2 separate regions of the Homo sapiens genome follow, and region 2 is linked to region 1. The links come from fine-mapping of genetic effects on gene expression. Tissue or cell type: gastroesophageal junction. Region 1 holds a variant in brackets; the other region holds the start of a gene. All regions are shown on one strand. Distances are between the middles of the regions. Region 1 overlaps RBL2 (RB transcriptional corepressor like 2). Region 2 holds the start of AKTIP (AKT interacting protein).

Region 1 (12,465 bases):
AGGCTGGTCTTGAACTCCTGACCTCAGGTGATCTGCCCACTGTGGCCTCCCAAAGTGTTGGGATTACAGGTGTGAGCCACAACGCCCAGCCTCTAAGCAACCTTTATCAATAAAAATCTCATTATGTAAGGGCCTTCACAATCCAGTTCCACTCGCTAACATAGCATGATGCCCGTAATTAAGCTTTGGATCACTGTCTGCCTCAAGGACACTGTTTTCTTCCCCTTAACCTGCTTCCTGCTGAGTGCCCTTCCATACCTCAACAGCTCCCTGACTTTTCAACATTAAGGCCTGACTCAAGCTTCCTTCCCCTTCTTAGAATGAGGTGGCTGTTGCCACATACATCTGTGCTAATATGACTATTGCACTGCAATGTCAAAAATGTCAACTTCTCCCATTAGCCAGAGTCCTGAGGACACTGCCTGTCCCAGAAACAGGCCTTTGGTAAGGAATCCAAAATTTCTTTCCCTAACAAATGTGGAAAATTGTTACAAATGGGATAAACACAAATTTCAGGTTTACAGCAAAATGTACAAATAGGAGAGGGAATAAAAAGAAATCCAAATCCCTTACCCTGTTTCCCACCCTAAAATTCCACCCCCTCCCCCTCAAAAAAGGCAAAAAACAAAACAAACCCTGGGTTTTGCTTCATGAGGACTGACTGATCACTGCTCCCTGGCAGCTCTCATCACTCTAATGAGTGCCTAAGCTTAGCACAAACCCTGTTTCTAGCATCTGAAGCATTTTGAGGTTAGTAAAGGCCAAGATTGATGTTAGGCTCACCTTTGAAGGACTGTTGCTGAAGTAATAGAAAATCTTTTCTCGAGGAGAAAGCATTGTTTCATTTTTATGTGGGGAAATGTAGACAGGATGATTTTGAGACAACTGTATTCGGCGAGGGGAGCCTGTTCTTACAAATGGATAGGGAGAGAGTGGAGGAGCATCCATCTGTTTAAAAAAAAAAAATCAGTAATTCTAAGAAAAAAATTTATAATTATTTTTACTGAAAATGATTATTGAGTGAAGAGGTGTGCTAAACCAGTAGTTTTATGAATGACAGAGTGATGTATTAGCAATAACTTAACCTAAAGAAAAATATTCTAATAGCAAACCTTAAGTGCTTAGTTTGTGCCAGTTATTATTTTAAGCAATTTTTATACATTATGTCATTTCATCCTTACAACAACCCCATATGCTAGGAACTAGTTATATTCCCATTTTATATATGAGGAAATGAGGTACAGAGAAAATTTAATGATTTGCAAGGTTACCACCACTGTTAAGTACTGGAAAATTTGAACCCATGTAGCCTGTCTCTTGTACTACTATACTTTGTAGGGACTCCAAATACAATCTTACTCGTTTAATGCTTAACAACAGTAGAATTTATATTGGTTAGGTAAATTACAGACCTCCTCAGTTTTACTTAATAGAATTATTTGTAAAACTAGCTTATTTATGAGACAGAGTCTTGTTCTGTCACCCAAGCTGGAGTGCAGTGGCACAATCTCAGGTCACTGCAACCACCGCCTCCCATGTTCAAACAATTCTCCTGCCTCAGCCCCCAGAGTAGCTGGGATTACAAGTGTGTGCCACCACGCCCAGCTCATTTTTGTATTTTTAGTAGAGACTGGGTTTTACCACGTTGGCCAGGCTGGTCTTGAACTCCTGACCTCAAGTGATCTGCCCTCCTCGGCCTCCCAAAGTGCTGGGATTACAGGTGTGAGCCACCACACCTGGCCAAAACTAGTTTATATACGGACCAGGTGAATGGTCCATATATAAATCATAAATGATTCCTCAACACTCATGAGTGAAAAAAGTATGAAATAATCCCTGTCATACTTACATTTGCCTGTGAGTACTTCATGGCAAATGTCTTAATCTGTTTGATGTAGATGTTGTTGTAGAACTGAATGAGGTCTCCCCTCTCCTCTTCTTCCATGTCACTGTTGGCACCTGTGAGGCGAGTAGGTGTGGGAGGAGCACTGCTGGGCTGTGGAACTGGCAAGGTGCTGCTTGACCTCATAACTGGACTGGAGTCTCTACTGGCTGCAGCCAGGAGAACAAAGGCTGTCAGTACAAAGGCTGCTAATATTGACTGTTTTAATTTTTTAAAAGTAGGAGAAAGGGAACAGCTACCTGCACTACTTGCTAATAACAGTGAATAGGCACTCTGTTCTTCACACCAAAAAGCAAAGCTCAGCTAGGATATTAACTTTCTCCCTATGCCATAACCATAGCAAGGGCTTTCTGAGTAGTGTCCATTAATAAGTTACACCAAATTTTCTAGGACCTAAGCCCTGTACTAAGTGGTACAAAGCAACAGGCAGGGGATGGTATTTCCATAGCATGGTTCCAATTGACATATCAGACCTTTCTGGAACTCAGGCAAGCAGATTCCTCCCTGAAAGCTCTAATTCTCCTGGAGAAAAATGTTACATAATATGTGCCCCAAAGCTATGTAATGGACAGTTTTGCCAGCTAGAATATGGTTTACTGATCTATAAAACACTTTCATAGTTTCTATAGTTATTTCATTTAGTAATGCTTAGTTACTTCTTCAAGGCCTAAAAAGTAAGAAAAGCTCCTAATTTTGTCTTGTAGTTCACAAAGATCCCACTTACTTCTATCTTTGTTTAGTTCTGTTGGAGAATTCTGATGGCTTCTGCTATCACTGCTGCCAGAATTTCTTCTTTTTCTTTTCCCTTTTATCAAAACACTTCTATACACCTTTAGAGAAACAATGAGAAGGGGACATAAACTAGTATTTGTTGAGCACACCCTTGGTGATAGGACCTTCACATATGTTACTTGGTTTTCACAATAACCTGTATAGCAATAGTTGTCCTCAGAACAGGTTGAGAAACATAACTCAAATTATAACAGATCCAGGATTCAATCAGAGCCCATCTAGCATCACATGCCAAGTACTACCTGCAGTACTACACTGCAGTGACAGCACCCAACCATAATGTCAAGTCATTCTAAGTAAGATACACAGATCTGGCCGATTTGCCTCTCAGAGATGAATGGTAATAAAGGCAAAGTGGGTTTTAAATTTCCATGTGACATTCTGTTGGTTAAACCTACAGTATGTTTACTAAACCAGAATGAAAGGTGACATAGAAACCAAGTAACTTCTTAATTCCTATCTTGTGATTTTTCTGAATTAAGAAGGCAATCAAATATTTAACATTGTTGCCTTTTGAGGAAAAGAGACCTTAATCAACATGTGACATCAAGAATAAAGATTAAAGTAGAAACTTCCCTTAAGTAGAGTCCCAGGTGTTTATCTTGGAAAAAAGGCCACAGAGTCAACTATGGTTAATTTTTTGTATTCATCACAGACTTTAAGCTTTATTTTTCAGCCCATAGAGAAAATGTAGTTACCTGGCTCCGGGCCTGCGGCTGAGTCCTATAACAACGCATAATGTTCTGGAAGGACTTATCTTCTTTTGTGACCTGGCAAACAATAAGAGTGCTCTGAGAGACATGGCAACTACCACCATAATAGTGTGAGGAGCTCTGTGAACCTGCTGCCCAGTAAAAGGGGTGAAAATTATATAAAAGCTATTTAAAGTCTCTGGAAATGGTATTAACGGCATATAGCAAATGAAGATACATCGATTCAAGAATATCTATTAAAATTCAATAAAAACAATAGGAGTCTATAGTATGTGAATCAAGACTTAGAGGCCAGGTGCGGTGGTTCACACCTGTAATCCCAGCACTTTGGGAGGCTGAGGAGGGTGGATCACTTGAAGTCACGAGTTCAAGACCAGCCTGGCCATCATGGTGAAACCCAGTATCTACTAAAAATACAAAAATTAGCCGGGCATGGTGGCACATGCCTGTAATCCCAGCTACTGGGGAGGCTGAGGCAGGAGAATCACTTGAACCTGGGAGATGGAGGTTGCAGTGAGCTGAGATTGAGCCACTGTACAGCCTGGGTGACAGAGCAAGACTCTCTCTCAAAAAAAGACTTGGAGTAGAAAAGTACAGTAAATGAAATGAAAAATTCACTAGAAGCTAGGGAAAACAGATTTGAACTAGCAAAAAAAAAAAAAAAAGGATTAGCAAACATGAAGAAAGAGATTGTGTGATCTGAGGAACAGAGAAAGAATGAAGAAAAACAGCCTCAGAGAAATGTGGCACACCATTAAGGAAATCAACATACGTGTAATGGGAGAATCAGGAGAGGAGAGAAAGAAGCAGAAAAAAATGTTCAAAGAAATACTGAAAACTTCCCAAATTTATTAAATTACATATCCAGGACATTCAGTGACTTCCAGGTAGGATAAACTCATCCGTACCCAGATATATCACAGTAAAAATGTTCAAAGCCAAAGAAAGAAAATATTAAAAGCATCAAGAGAAAAACAACTTTTCAGTTACAGGGAAACCCCAATAAAATAAAATTTGACTTCTAATCAGAAACTACAGAGGCCAGGAGGCAGTGGGATAACATTCAAAGTGATGAAAGAAAAAATATTAAACTAAGAATCCAGTATTAAAAAGTTACTCAAGATTTTTATCTCTGAAATGTCAATATTCAAAATTTTTGCAAGTTATCTTTCAGAAATGAAGGTAAAATAAATATACTCTCAGATAAACAAAAACAGAATTTGGTGCTAGCAAACCCCTTACAAGAAATACTACACAAAATTCTAGAAGCCAAAAGCAAATGCCCCTGGACAACACTACACATGAAGAAAGCCAAGAGCACTGGTAAAGATAATTATGTAATCGTAAATACAGTATAACTGCACATTTCTTCTCCTTTCTTAACTGATTAAAAAATCAATTGTATAAATAATATATATATATAATGTACCCATAACATACAAAAATGTAACATATTTGCCTACAACAGTACAAAGGAGGTAGGCAGGAGCAAAGCCATATTGAGCAAAGGAAATTACTCCAGATGGCAACTCACATACACAGGAATGAATAAGAGAAATAGAAATAGGCTGGGTGTAGTGGCTACTCCTGTAATCCCAACATTTTGTGAGGCTGAGGCAAGTGAACTGCTTGAGGCCAGGAGTTCGACACCAGCCTGGGCAACATGGCAAAACCCCGTCTCTACAAAAAAATACAAAAATCAGCCGGGCATGGTGGCACATGCCTGCACCCTGTAGGCCCAGCTACATGGGAGGCTGAGGCAGAAGGATCATTTGAGCCCGGGAGGCAGAGGTTACAGTGAGTTGAGATTGCACCGCTGCTCTCTAGTCTGGGCGACAGAGCAAGACTCAGTCTTAAAAAAGAAAGAAAGAAAGGAAACCAGAAATTATTAATAAGGTTACTAGAGCAAAAGTTTTAAATACATACTTACACTCCTTTCCTTTCTGCTACTTTAGAAGTCATAAAATTGTATCAATAATTATAACAATGTACTGGTGGAGTTGTACATTTATGGATGTAATATGTGTAACGAAACAGTTAACACTCCTATATCTCACTGGAATTAAGTCAGTATAATCTGAAGCTGATTTTTGATAAGAGATATATGGTAAGCCCTAGGGCAACCACTACACACACACACACACACACACACAAAATGAAACCAAAGTACTGACGTTAAAATGCTACTTTAGAAAATATTGACCTAATGCAAAAGCAAAGCTGCAAAGGCAAAGGGAAAGACATGAAAACAAAAAGTAAAATGGCAGATGTAAATCCAATTATATACATAGTCAAAAGGCAAAAGAAATCCAAATGTATTTTATCTACAGGAGACATTTTAGATTTAAAAAATACAAATACATTCGAAAATGAAAGGATGGAAAGAGGTATACAGACAGCAACCATAAGAAAGCTGGGTGACTATATATCTCACACTATAAATCAGACTTCAGGACAAAAAAAGTTATTAAAAAGGGACATTCCATAATGATAAAAGGATCAAGCCATCAGGAATCTATAACAGTTATACACATACCTAATAACTGAGCACAAAAAATACCTGAAGCGAAAAGTGACAGAAGTGAAGGGAAAAGTAGACAATTCAGCAATAATATTTA[T/C]AGATTTCAGTACCTCACTTTCAAGAATGGAGAGATGATCTAGGCAGATCAACAAGGAAACAAAACACTTTACTAACAATATAAAACAATTAGACCTAACAGACATCTACAGAACACTCTCCCCAACCTCCACAGAATACACACTGTTCTCAAATGTACTTTGAAATTCATTAGGATAGAGCATATATGCTAGGCTATAAAACAATTCTTAATATATTTAAAAGAACTGGAATAAAATGAAGTGTGTTTTCAATCACAATGAAAGTAGAAATCAGTAACAAATTTGGGAAACTTACAAATACGAAGTTAACAACATATTGCTACATAACCAGTGAGTCAAACAGAAGCCAAAAAAAGAAATCAGAAAATACTTTTGAAATGAAGACACACCATACCAACACTCATGCAGCTAAAGCAGTGCACGGAGGAAAATTTAGAGTTGTTAATGCTTACACTGAAAATGAAGAAGGGCCAAGGGCGGTGGCTCACACCTGTAATCCCAGCACTTTGGGAGGCTGAGGAGGGAGGATTGCTTGAGCTCAGGAGTTCGAGACCAGCCTGGGTAACACAGCAAAATCTCGTATCTACAAAAAATTAGCAGGGCATGGTGGTGCACGGCTGTGGTCCCAGCTACTCAGGAAGCTTAGGGAAGAGGATCACTTAAGCCCTGGAGGAAGGCTGCCGTGAGCACTACACTCCAGCCTAGGCGACAGAGCAAGATGCTGTCTCAAAAAAAAAAAAAAAAAAAAAAAAAAAAGATATTGAAATATTAGAAAGGTATCTTTTAAAAGATACTGATATCTACGTAAAGGATTTGGGGAAAAAAGATATTAAGAGAAATAGTAAATTAATTACCTAAACATCCATCTTAAACCATCTTAAAACAACAGAAAAGGGCAAAAAGTAAGCCTCAAGTAAGCAGAAAGAAGGAAATAAGATTATATACTAATGAATAAAGAACACAAAAATAGATAAATGAAACCAAAAAGCTGGTTTTTAAAAGAAAAAGATCAAGAAAATTGACAAACCTTTAGCTAGACCAAGAACAAAAGGGAGGAGTCTCAAACTACTACAAAAAGCAGGGCACAGGGGCTCATGCCTGCAATCCCAGCACTTTGGGAGGCCAAGGTGGATGGATCGCTTGAGGCCAAGAGTTTGAGACCAGCCTGGGCAACATGGGGAAATTCCATCTCTACTAAAAATACAAAAACTAGCTGGGCGAGGTGGCACAGGCCTGTAGTCCCAACTACTCAGGAGGCTGAGGCACAAGAATCACTGGAAACCAGGAGGCTAAGGTTTCAGTAAGCCAAGATCATGCCCCTGTATTCCAGCCTGGACAACAGAGTGAGACTGTCTCAAAAAACAAAACAAAACGAAAACTACAATCATAAAAGGAAAAGGACATTACTACTGACCTTAAAGAATAAAAAAGAACAGAAGGAAATATTATAATTATTTGCCAACAATTTAGCCCAGAGGAAACAGACAAATTCTTAGAAAGACATACACTACCACAACTGATTCTAGAAGAAACAGATGATCTGAATAGACCTATAACAAATAAGAGACGGAATTATTCACCAATAAACTTCCCACAAGGAAAATCTCTGGTCTCAACAGCTTCGCTGCTGAATTCTACCAAACTTTAAAACATTAATACCAAGAAGCTCATATCCATGGGTCTTTCAGGCAGCTGTAAATTAAAAAAAAAGGCAAAGGAAAAAATATAATACCTAAATATAGAAGAGAACACTTCCTACTCAATTCTATGAGACCATTATTACCCTGATAATAAAACCAGACAAAGCCACAACAAGAAAACTACAGACCAATGCCTCTTATGCATAAGGATAAAATTCCTTAGCAATCACTGCTGCATGTGGAAACTTGAAAAAATAAATATTTTTTTTAACTGAAAACAAATTCCTCAACAAACTGTTGGCAAACCAAACCTAGCAACATATAAAAAGAATTATAGGCTGGGCACCGTGGCTCACGCCTATAATCCCAGCACTTTGGGAGGCCGAGGCAGGTGGATCACCTGAGGTTGGGAGTTTGAGACCAGCCTGACCAATATGGAGAAACCCCGTCCCTACTGAAAATACAAAATTAGCCAGGGGTGGTGGCACATGCCTGTAATCCCAGCTACTTGGGAGGCTGAGGCAGGAGAATTGCTTGAACCTGGGAGGCGGAGGTTGCGGTGAGCCAAGATCTCGCCACTGCACTCCAGCCTGGGCAACAAGAGCGAAATTCCATCTCAAAATAAATAAATAAATAAATAAATAAATAAAAGAATTACAGCAGCCGGGTGCAGTGGCTCACGCCTATAATCCCAACACATTGGGAGGCTGAGGCATGAGGACTGCTTGAGCTTAGGAGTTCGAGACCAGCCTGTGCAACAAGGTAGACCCTGTCTACAAAAAATTTAAAAAATTAGCCAGGCATGGCAGCATGTACCTGTAGTCCCAGCTACTCAGGAGATGAAGGTGGGAGGACTGCTTGTAGTGAGCTATGATCTCACCACTGCACTCTAGCCTGGGTAACAGAGCGAGACACTGTCTCAAAAAAAGAAAAAAATAAGACTTACACACCATGACTGAGAGGGATTTACACCAGAAATGCAAGGCTGGTTTAACATAGGAAGATTAATCAGTGTAATATACTATATTAATAGAATAAAAAAAATAAGCACACGATCATCTCAATGGACACACAAGCATTTGACAAAATCTAATGCCCTTTCATGATAAAAAAAACACTCAATGAACTAAGAAAAGAAGGGAACTTCCTCAACCTGATAAAGGGCATCTATGAAAAAAACCATAACTACTATCATACTTTAATAGTGAAAAACTAGATGCTTTCCACCTAAGATCAAGACAAGGATTTCTGCTTTCGACAGTTCTGTTCAACTATACTGGAAGTTCTAGCAAGATAATTAGGAAAGAAAAAGAAATAAAAGGCATCCAGTTTGGACAAGAAGTAAAATTATAAGCAGATTACATGATTTCCTACATAGTAATCCTAAGGAATCTACTAGAAAACTATTAGAACTAATAACTTCTGCAAAGTTGCTGGATACTAGATCAATATACAAAAGTGTTTTTCTATACACTTGCAATGAACACGTTAACAATGAAACAACTACACTTGGAATAGCATCAACAAGAATAGGAATAAATTTAACAAAAGAATTGCAAACATACTCTGAAAAGTACAAAGCATTGTTGAAAAAAAAACAGAAGATCTAAATAAATGGAAAAACATCCTATGTTCATGGATCAGAAGATATAAAATTGTTAAGATGGCAATACTCCCCAAATGGATCTACAGATTCAGTGCAACCCTATCAGAATCCTAGCTTATTCCTTTGTGAAACTGATAATTTGATTCTAAAATTCATTTTTCAAGGGACTTCGAAAATAATCTTGAAAAGAAAAAAAAAGTAGGAGCACTCATATTTCCCAATTTCAAAACTTATAAGAAAGCAACTCTCTAATCTAGAGAATATGGTATTGCATAAGGATAGGCATATAGTCCAGTGGAATAGAATTTAGAGTTCAGAAATAAACCCAAATGTTGTCAACGGTCAATTGATTTTAAAGGAGGGTACCAAGGCCATTCAGTGAGGAAAAAAATCTTCTTTTCAACAATGGTGCTGAGACAACTGCACAACCACATAATCAGAATGGAAATGGACTGCTACCTCATACCATACACAAAAATTACTCAAAATTGATCAAAGACCTAACTATGAGATAAAACTATAAAAATCAAAAGACCTTGGGTTTGGTAATGGATTCTTAGGACACCCAAAGTGCAAGTAACAAACCAAAAAACAGGTAACTGGACTTCATCAAAATTAAAAACTTTTATGCTTCAAATGACACTATCGAGTAAGTGAAAAGATACACCGAATGGGAGAAAATATTTGCAAATCATACATCTGAGAAGGTAGTTGTATCCAAAATAAAGAATTCCAACAACTCAATAATAACATAATTTTAAAATGGGCAAAGGATTTAAAGATATTTCTCCAAATAAGATATGCAAATGGCCAGTAAGCACATGAAAAGATGCTTGACATCCTTAGTTATCAGGCAAATGAAAATCAAAACCACAATGATATATCACCCAATACCCGCTAAGATGGCTATAATAAAAATAATAAGTTGGCAAGGATGTGGAGAAACTGGAACTCTTGTGCATTACTGGTAGCAATGTCAAATGGTGCAGCTTCTGTGGAAAATGGTACGGTGGTTCTTCAAAAAAGTTAAACATAGTATCACCATATGACCCTGCAGTTCCACTCCTAGGAATAAACTCAAAAGGACTGAAAATGGGCACTCAAACAGGTACATGATATACCTGTTCACAACAGTGCTATTCACTATAGCCAACAGTTGGAAACAGCCCAAATATCCATCAGTGTATGAGTGGAGAAAAAAATTGTGCCTATCCATACAATGGAATATCATTCAGTCATAAAAAGGAATGAAGTACTGATACATGCTGCAACATGGGTAAACCTGGAAAATATTATCCTAAGTAAAAGGAGCCATACACAAGAGGTCACATATTGTACCATTTCTATAAACGATTAAGAACAGATAAATCCATACAGCCAGAATGCCAACTGCTGGTTGCCAGGTGCTGTGGGAGGTAGAATGGGGAGAAACTACTTAATAGGAAAGGAGTTTTACTTTGCAGGTACGGAAATGTTCTGGAACTAGACAGAGGTGGTGAGTATACAACCATTTATTACACTTAGTACTGTAAATGTGCTAAATGCTCCTAAATTGTTCAACTTAAAATAGTTAATTTGGCTGGGCCCAGTGGCTCATGCCTGTAATCCCAGCACTTTGGGAGGCCGAGGTGGGCAGATCACCTGAGGTCAGGAGTTTGAGACCTGCCTGGCCAACATGGTCAAACCCCATCTCTACTAAAAATGCAAAAATTAGCCAGGCATGGTGGCACATGGCTGTAATCCCAGCTACTCGGGAGGCTACGACAGGAGAATCGCTTGAACCTGGGAGGCAGAGGTTGCAGTGAGCTGAGATGCACCACTGCACTCCAGCCTGGGTGACAAGAATGAAACAACATCTCAAAAAAAAAAAGAAAAACCCAATTAATTTTATGTTATGTGAATTTCTCCTCAATAAGTTATTTAAACAAAGTAAGATAGTAAGTGTTAATGAGATAGTGGAGAAACTAAAATCTTTATTATACTGCTGTGTAAGTGTAAAATGGTACAGTACTTTGGAAAACAATCTAGCAATTCCCTAAATAGTTAAAACACAGTTAATGTATGACCCAGCAGCCCATTCCTAGGTATATACCCTAGAGAAATGAAAATACATGTCTATACAAAAACCCAAACACAAATGCTAATAGTGGTATTATGCATATATGCCAAAAGTAGAAACAACTAAAATATACATTAGCTAATAAATGGATAAAAATACTCTCATATAACTATACAATGGAATATTATGTTCTAAAATTGTGGTGAGTATTGCACATATCTGTGAATATACTAAGACCCATTTAGTTGTGCATTTTAAATAGGTGAATTATAGAGCATGTAAACTGTATCTCAAGACAGTGGTTAAAAAATGTTCTCAGTAATGAAGACCTATCTTTGCCTTTACAATTCCAAATGGTACTCACCTTTGCCATCACATAAATGGCACACATTAATAACTGGTCCAGATGTCTGTCCATCATAAGTTCAGGACACTGAATTATGGAGAATTCAAAGCAGGTCCAGATTTTTTTCCTCAATTCATCTGAAATATCTAGTTTGGCACAGAGATCCCGAAGGCGGACAGCTGCTAAATGGTATACCTAGGAGATAAAAACATTTCAAACTTTGTTTAACACTTGTATTTCCCAAGCTCATGCTCTGATAAGGTATGTGAAAAATTACCTTTCTAAAGAAAAGCGATAAAGAGCTGGTCTTCCTGGGTCTATTACTACTGCTGGTTACAGACTGGCCTTGCTTCTGCTGTTGGCCACCTGGGGAAATCTGTTGAATGGCCACTTGACCAGGGACTTGCAAAGTTGTTCCTGTCACCTGTTGAGAGCTCAGACTTCCAGCCAGGGCCTGAGCACTGAGGGGCTGGATGGAGCCTGTCACAGCTTGTGCCTGCCCCCCAACATTGACTTGGACAGGGAAGAATGTTATCCCTCCATTTTCATTGGCAATACCTAGTGACAGAGAAAAAAAGCATGAAGAAAATGTTGATAATAAGAGGTTCTCCGGGCAGAGGTTTACAATTTCTGCTCTCCCAAACCCTCTCTCCCCATCACTCCTCTGTCCCCTATGTCACTCTAGCCAAACCTCGGGTAACTTTTCAATACATGCCACAGAGAAGGAACTCAATATCCAACTCTGCCTTCCTTACCTTGCACAGGAATGGTTACCGTTTGCCCATTG
Region 2 (8,410 bases), 27 kb before region 1:
GAGTATTGCTTTCTCTCTCTTTGGTTTTCTGAGTGTGCCACTCTAGATAAAACTAACTCAAGCCTTTATCATCATTCCAAATGCTTTGAGACCACAGAGTGAAGTGGTTTCCCAAAGATAAACTGAATCAAAGAGAACACTGCTCTTATGGCTGTGGGTACAGTCATCAGCGTGCTGAGGGAGTGGGGATTATTTGCGGTGTCAGACCACGTTCAAAATGCTGTTTGATTATAAAAGGAAATCAGTTCTCTTCAGCCCTGAATGAGCAGCCGTATCATATATTGGTTGCTTTTCCTTAAGACATAAATATCCGCAGTGGTCCATCAGCTACCCTGATTTCATTTTGAAATGTTGTAGTCTGTCTGTAAAATTCATTCCTCCACCCGCCCACCCACTTGCTCAGGGATAGGAGTTATGGGTAATGGGATAGGGAGGAAAACATGATGCAACCAAAACCTGGAAGCACATGTGTGATGTTATAAGCAAGAACCGTATCGCTCGATGAGGCTATGGAAAGGAAGAAAGCCACATCATCCGTCTATAGCAGCATTTCTAAACCTTCAATAATTCTTAAAAGTTTGTGATTTCTGTCTTGTCTGAGGATCATTGTTAACTATAGGACAACTATCTGATCTCCCTTAAATCCATTTACTTAAAAAAAACAACAACATTAAATGCCTACTTTGGTCTCATCCTAAACATTATTACCCATAAAATAATGGCTTTAATGTGCTAAGTATATTTTTTCAAAGACATTAATATGTATAGCTAGATCATCCTCCCATATTTTGAACAGTATATGTAATCAGTGACATGTATACAGGAATCTACTTTTCAGAAAAGGACTTGGGGGCAAATGGATTGCGCTAAAAACATCGGCTTATATGTGTGCCTGTGTATGAAACATATGTATTTTAACAACCTTCAACATTTTATCCTTTCCTTCTTTCTGTGAAGGCCTTTAATAGTTAAGTCAGTGATCTAAACAGCTTTGTACAGTTACTTTTCCGGAGTCCAAAAGATGTATGATTCAGGGAATATTTTGCTGATTAGAACATGAGCAGAAGTCCTGAATACTCAGAGATCACATATCTATTAAGTCTGGATGCAAAAAGAACCTTTTGGTGCAAATATATCAAATATGCTTCAAAAATTGAGAATAGGAAATGTAATATGAAGCGATTTAAAATGTTTTATAGGTAAGGTTTTGGGTCCATTGAGATTTTTCTCAGCACTTTATGTTTTAGTCTTAAAGAAATGGTACCTTGAGGCCACCTCCTCATTTCCCTTTGAATAAATCATCCTGATTTTCATAATGAGTTGCTTTCTTGGTGCAGACCTGTGGGCGTGCAGGTAGGTGTTTCAAATGTACTTTTGTTTCTTCTGTCCTTCATTTGGCAAATATTTATTGCATGCCTACAACATCTAGCTCTTGGGTGCCGGGGAGACAATAGAAAGCAAAAAAATGGTTCCTCCTCAGGAGCTTACAGTGTGGGAGACAGACACTAATAATCTCCCAAATCAACAGCAAATTGCCCCCAAGGAAGTAGTGTTAGAGCTGAGATCTGTGTAGGGGATTGAAGAGAATGAACTGGGCAAAGGGAACGTTCACTGCGAAGGCCCCTTTTGTGGCAGGGCAGGTAGGGGAGCAACTCCCTTCCAAGGAACTGGAAGAATGTCAGAGTGGCTGGAGTCTGCAGCCACCTGGGGCTGGGACACAGCCATGGTGAGGAGTTTGGTCTTTGCCCAATGGGGAACCACTGAAGGGCTTAAATTCCTCAAGAAAATGGAGGTTCTGTCAGCAATGAAAAAGGGAGAAGTGGGTATTAGGTATACAGGCAATAGTGCTTACAGAAACACCCCAAACATACCTACCCAAAACACAACCCAGATTTTCCCATTTCCCACTGTCCCAAACCTGCTTGTGGTTCACTGTTTGTCACCTCAGTGAATGGCCTCACCATCCATCCTGTAGCTCATGCTAAAAATCTAGGTGTCAGCCATATCTGCCTCTTCATCCCCCATACCTAGTCCATGGCCAAGCTCTGTCCACCCCACCTGTATGAATCCATCAGTGTTGCTATAAAGGAATACCTGAGGCTGGGTCATTTATTTTTAAAAAGAGGTTTATTCAGCTCATTGTCCACTTCCTTGGGGCAATTAGCCATTGATTTGGGAGATGACTTGATTAGCATCTATCTCCCGTAGCTCCATGAGGAGGAACAATGTCTGTTTTGTTCTCCAACGCCTCCCCAGCATTTAAAGCCTAGATGTCATTAAGCATGCAATAAATATATGTCAAATGAAAGACAGAGGCAACTAAGTATAAGAAGCATGGCACCAGCATCTTCTGGTGAGGACCTCAGGAAGCTTCCATTCATGGCAGAGGGAGAGGCCAGCAGGAATCATTTGGCAAGAGAGAGAGCAGTGGTCAGGGGAGGAGAAGGTGACAGGCTCTTTTTGACAATCAATTCTCTCGGGAACTAATAGAACTCACTCACTACTGCCAAGAACTCACTACTGCCAGGACAGCACCAAGCCTTTCATGAGGGATCAGCCTCCATGACCCAAATACTCCCACCAGGCCCCACTTTCAACATTGGGGGTCACATTTCAATATGAGGTTTGGAAGGGTCAAACCATATCCAAACTATATCATCCCGTCTTAAACATCTCTGGAACTCATTCAATTCTCCATCTCTACCTTCAAATTCATGCGATTCTCTGTTGCCTGAACTACTGCCATGGTTCCTCAACTGCCCCGTGAGCCTTGTGCCCCTACAATCTGTTTTCCGCACAAAGTGATGTTTTCAAAATACAAATCTGATCATGGCTCTCCTCTGCCTAAAGTCCAGGCAGAGATCTAGGGAAAATCTCAGCCCAAGTCGATCATGGCGGACTCCTTCCACTTGCCGTTGACTGGGTTTCGTTGTGGCCAGAGACTTACTTCTGGCCATTGAAACCTGCAGGCATTTCTTCTGCGGAGCTTCTGGGAAAGGTAGTCATGTATTTCAAAAGGGACCACTGGAAGAAAGGGATACTTTTAATTTTGTGAGATCCTGGGTGTGCCGCGGCCATCTTGCTACCAGCCTGAAAGTGCAATTCCAGGGACTGCAAGGAAAGCAGAGCCTGAAGACCAGGGCACCACCTCTGGAGACAATCCTCCCATGGGAGAGAAATCCCCTTGCTAAGTAAGCCGGTTTGAGTTGGCTTTCCTGCCATGTGCAGTCTGATGCTGGTGTGCGTCTGAGTCATCCGGTGCCAAGTACGCAGTTGATGACATGCATTGGAAGCTCAGTGGATAGATGTGAGCTGGAGAAATACCTATGTGGGTCCTCGGTGAAAACTGAAGGTTGGGGAAAGGAGGAAAGCAGAAAAAAAGCTTTGCAGAGGATAATGAGCTTCAAAGAAGATTGGGAGGAAATGGGCCACAGAGGTGCCAAAGGAGACCACCTGTGGCCTGAAAAAAGGATTTCCTGCTTGCCTGCCTTTCTGTATTAAGACTCGTATTAAAAGGCATGATAACATTCCTAAATGTGTCCTAAGGGGACAAAAGGAAGTGGCTCAGAAGTGTTTTCAGCTAGGGGAGGAAGCTGGGTTTCAGAACCAACCCTTGGGATTAACATCAGGAGAATTTGGCTTCCTGCCCTTTAATAAGTCACTTACCAGAATCTCAGAGGCAACCAAAAATGGACCAAACAACCCGGCCAGAGAATGCGGCTTCTGAGTGTAAGACACTGAGGCGGTGTCACAGACAGGTCAGTGCCTCTGGTGTCTAGAAAAGGGGCAGGGGCTTGCGGGGAGAGGGCTGTCGCGCAAGTGTGGAAGTGGAGTGCCGAGATTGGACGGACTAACCACGGGGAGGCACCGTTGGTAAGAACAGGCCTGGAAAGCAGCTGGCAGCAGTCACAGAATTAGGCCAGAGAGAGACCTCCATGGGAAAGCAGACGGGAGGTCCAAATGAGAGCGTGTGAATTAAAAAAAAAAAAAAAAAAAAAGACCAGGAACTATGTTGCTATGGGAGAGGTTCTCCAACTTCAGTGTGCGCCAGAATCAGCAGCGAACTGTGACAGATGTGGATTCCTGGTCCTCAGCCTCCCCCCTCCCCCCAGCCCCCGGCCCCCACTCGGATGCTGCAGGTCGGGGCCGACACACACAGATTTACAAAGCTCCTCTGGCTGCTCTAGTGCCCAGGGCCCACTTGGAGCTGAGCTCCCTTCAGCTCCAGCCTTCAGCTCCTGCACTGATGGAGAGAACGGGCGTTTCTTGATGCCACGCCAAGTGTCCTTCTGACCCCTGGTACCCTGTGGGCCCGACGTGGCGGCCTCGGGCCTCGCAGCGCCGCCCAACGCAGTAGGACCTAGCGATGGGAGCCACTGGGCAGTCGCGCGGCCCGGCCCTCCCCAAAAGCTTGGCTTGCAGACGTTAGCGTATGCCCCAGCCCCTGCGCATGGCGGTTGCGCTGTGGGCTGTGCGAATAAACCTCCGGGAAGGTCTCCGTGGTGACTGGCAGACGCCCTGGCCAATTGTGACCCGGCGCTTGTTTGTCTCTGCCCCATCCCTCCCCGGGGGGCCGATACTTCCATGACTGACAGGCCGTCCCAGGCGCTGTTACGTAAGGGGAGGGTCAAGTGCAGTCCCACCCAAACCGGGGTGATTTGATTTGCAGGACCGAGTGTGTTCTTCCCAACGCCCCCGGAAGAACGTCTTTGACGGGCAGGTGTGAGAGCCAGTTGGCGCCGGGAGGCCAGGCGGAAGCCTCGGGCCCCAGGATCGTGCAGCAGGGGGCGGAGCCCGCTGCCGAGGGCAGGGCAGGGCAGGGCAGGGCGGGGTGGGGCGGGGCGGGGATCAAGCAGGGGCAGGGCTGGCGCTGCGGCGGGAGATGCTGTCGGGCCGCGGCGGCGCTTGGCAGCCAGGAGCTCTGCATTGAAGGCACTGGGGTGAGGCTTACTGCCCGGCAGGCTGGTGGGTACGCGAGGGCTGAGGTGTCTGTAAATCTGGCCGCCAGCCTCCACGGGCCCGGCATTTGTCCATCTTTCTAGGCGCTCGCGACTCGGCGACGGCGGCCGCAGTGGGACACGGAGGCGGGGCCGGGCACCTGTGCGCGTTTGCAGGCACCTGCTGCGCTGGCCGCCTCGCAGCCCGGGACTGCTGCTGGGGACTGCGGCTGGAGCTGGGCTGGCCCGGCCCGAGGGAGAGGGGGGCCCAGCTGGCTCGCCCCGGCCCGTGCCCGCCCTCCCCGGCCGGGTCCCGACCCCGAGCTCTGGTTAAGGGGGCGTCGCCGGGCCCCAGAGCCCCCCCACTGGAGGGGCCCGCGGCTCCCGGGCCAGCATCGAGCTAGCTGCGAGGCCAGGACAGGGCCCCCGCCTTGCATCACCTCGAGACAGGTTTGTCCAGATTCCCTGAGTGCTCAGAGACGGGTTTCCGCCCGCGGTGAGGGTGCCGGTCCGAGGCCGCCGCGGGTCCCGGCTGTCCCCAGCGAGCCTGGCCCGGGCCGTTTTCATCTTTTTTTTTCTGGCCCCTGCTCTGTCTCCTCTTAACGTGTAATTTCTTAAGTCCGATTCGGGGTGATGTGAGTGCGCTGTGGCATGTAGAGTAACAGCAGCACTCATGTTTTAGCCTAGTTTTAGCTCTGCCACGCACTGTCATTCGCGCAGGCTGAAGACCCAGACTTCTCAGCTGGGTGATGTAAAGGAATGCAGCCGTGGCCAAACAGGCAGAAATTCTAAAATTGTTTCCAAGTGACAAGGATGTAACATGTCTTGCTTCCATCTATGTCATTCCTCTCAGAACATGTATGCTGTGCTTGTCCTAGACTAGACCCTGAAAAGTGTGCTACAGTTTCTCGTGATTATGTTGCTGCTGGAAACATTGGATTAAAAGATCCATAGCAAAGTTAGGCAGCAGAAGACAATACCTCCTGCTTAATGACAGGCAGAACTGGGGACAAAATTTACTGGATTCTTAAAGAGAATCCTAACGCGTTAGACCTTTAAGAGACTTTACAGGTTTGCACCAGCCCATTAAATGTATGTTGTGGAGCACACCACTGTGTCCCAAGGGATCCGGTCCCGTGTTAGGTGTGTCCTAGAGGACACTGGGGTGCTGCACATTACTGCTAGATCTGAAAATCAGTGTCTTCATTTGAGCCAAAGGGGAACATGCCCCCGCACATTTTTGATATCTCAAGTATATTCAGTGTGTCATACTCACCTTTAAAGGCAGATTTGCGGAGAACTGTTGTTACTTATTGCATGTTATCCATGCTAGTAGAAGAGCCAGGATCTTCATTCCTCTGATTTAATTACTGGGTGGCATTTTCTCTTGGAAAACAAAACAGCAGTAATGGGCACTGGCAAGGTATGGATGACCTGGGTTGGGTACGTCCCTGGATGTCACAAGCTCGTCAGAGAAGACAAATTATTGCTGATTGGGGACATTTAGTACATGGTTTGCTCATGATCTGTTTAAGAAATTAGGAAAACGTTGCTTAGTTTTGACCCTTTTCACCTTCAGCCGTTTGATTGGTGCAAGTAGGAATTCAGAGAAGGAGCTCTGCTTTAAAGGTAACAGAGCCTGGGGGGAAATACCAGGGCAGGGAAGTTGCTGTTCTTACAGCTGGGCTTGGCTGCTTTTCCTTTGCTTCTTTGTATTTTTAGTAAATGACCCACTGACTTTATGACCTTTGAGACATGCTTTCTTATCCACGACTTGAAGCTTCGGCTGGAAGATCTGTACTTGTGAAATGTCTCTCTTGCGTGCCTGTGTTGCATTTGTCTGGATTGCTTGGCAGTTCCTTAAGTACATGATCCTGCAGTTTCTATATGTTTCGAAGTTGTAGAAGGCAGTTTATTGGGGGATGGTACTGACAGGACTCAGGTAACTACTTTTGTCGTCTTAGTGACATACTTGTGCTGTGCCTTCCTGTTTTCTCTTATTTCTTTGGCTAATACTTTGCTGGAGGAATCATTTTGTACTCAGGTGAGTTGAGGCAGCGCTTAAATCAGCCTCCTTGTATCTATTGTTTGTTCCCATAACCCTGGGAACAGTGATACAACTTATGTGTATGTGGGTACAGTGCATTCTGAGTCTGGCTTTCCTGTTAGTTAAATGCCGAGATGTGCTAGTAACAACTGTTGTCCGTATCTTCTGAATTTCTGGCACCAAAGCTCATCTGTGTCACTGAGTAATCTGAATCCTGGCCAAGGGACCTGGTGCACAGATTCTTATAGACATCTAAGTGTGAAAGAAATTAGAACCAGAAAAGGAGGTGGGTATAGAAGGAAACTATTTCTGAAGATGCCTGAAGACCTTTTCCTAGGTTTTTATAACCCCTTGTTATATAACATTATATTGTATATCCAGGGTGTCATAATTAGTTATTCATCATTTCAGAAGTCTTAACTGTTGGCCGGGCGTGGTGGCTCATGCCCGTAATCCCAGCACTTTGGGAGGCTGAGGCAGGTGGATCACTTGAGGTCAGGAGTTCGAGACCAGCCTGGCCAACATGGTGAAACCCTGTCTCTACTAAAGATACAAAACTTAGCTGGGCATGGTGGCAGGCACCTGTAATCCCAGCTACTCAGGAGGCTGAGGCAGGAGAATCGCTTGAACCCAGGAGGTGGAGGTTGCAGTGAGCCGAGATCACACCACTGCACTCCAGCCTGGGCAACAGAGTGAGACTCCATCTTAAAAAAAAAAAAAAGTCTTAATGGTTGGTGTTGGCATGTTTCTATGTCTTCCCGTCTTGTTTTAAGGTAAAGTGAATGCCGAAGACAGAAGATTTGGATGATACACCACTGACTTTCTTTGTTTGGAATACACGTTATGAACCCTTTCTGGAGCATGTCTACAAGCTCTGTACGCAAAGTAGGTATAGTTGATAAATTCAGTAAGAAAACCCATTTGCTTCTGTGTCTGAAAATAGGGTCAGAATGAAGGCTAAAATAATCTGTCACGGTCACCTGTAATCTTGACAAAATTACCTGGTTTTTCTAGTTAAGGGTTTACTCTTGAGAAATAATTATTTTGTTGGTTGAAGTCTGTTTCTGAGACTAGGATTGCATCTCAAATAGAAATCGTTCTGGTCATCACAATTCTAAGATGATTTAGGTTATATTTACACATGATGAAATTTGTAACATTGTAGTTTTCTACTAAACTTCAAGGTTCTACGGTTAGAACAGCTGTGGGAAAGGCTAGTCTAATATCATTAAATCAGACTTGAGGGGCACTAATTTAATTTTTCTAAATAAAATGATTTTTTAAAAATATATTTTCATTTTAGGAAAGGTTAAAATAGGCAAACAATAAGAAAATAAAAACCAGCTGGGCACGGTGGCTCATGCTTGTAATCCCCAGCACTTTGAGAGGCCGAGGCGGGCAGATCACGAGGTCAGGAGATCGAGAC

What was found.
Region 2: it holds the start of AKTIP, and the variant in region 1 is fine-mapped to the expression of AKTIP in gastroesophageal junction (GTEx, PIP 0.97).

What each region holds. Positions count from the first base shown.
Region 1 is chr16:53,470,154-53,482,618 of GRCh38, reverse strand. RBL2 (RB transcriptional corepressor like 2) reads right to left here. Exons shown (of 22, transcript NM_005611.4): 15 at 12,434-12,465; 16 at 11,956-12,236; 17 at 11,697-11,873; 18 at 3,394-3,465; 19 at 2,628-2,733; 20 at 1,850-2,052; 21 at 784-948. Among named protein-coding and RNA genes, the nearest start is that of AKTIP, 27 kb to the left of the region's middle. The variant T/C (reference allele first, on the strand shown) is at 6,027.
Region 2 is chr16:53,499,677-53,508,086 of GRCh38, reverse strand. It overlaps AKTIP (AKT interacting protein), which reads left to right and starts at 4,878. Exons shown (of 10, transcript NM_022476.4): 1 at 4,878-4,940; 2 at 7,758-7,869. The coding sequence starts at 7,828. LOC124903690 (a long non-coding RNA gene) reads right to left here and starts at 3,707. Exons shown (of 2, transcript XR_007065069.1): 1 at 3,667-3,707; 2 at 2,109-3,346. RefSeq lists silencers at 3,711-3,800, 4,521-4,760, 4,781-4,850, 5,111-5,410 and enhancers at 4,121-4,220, 4,681-5,180, 5,181-5,682.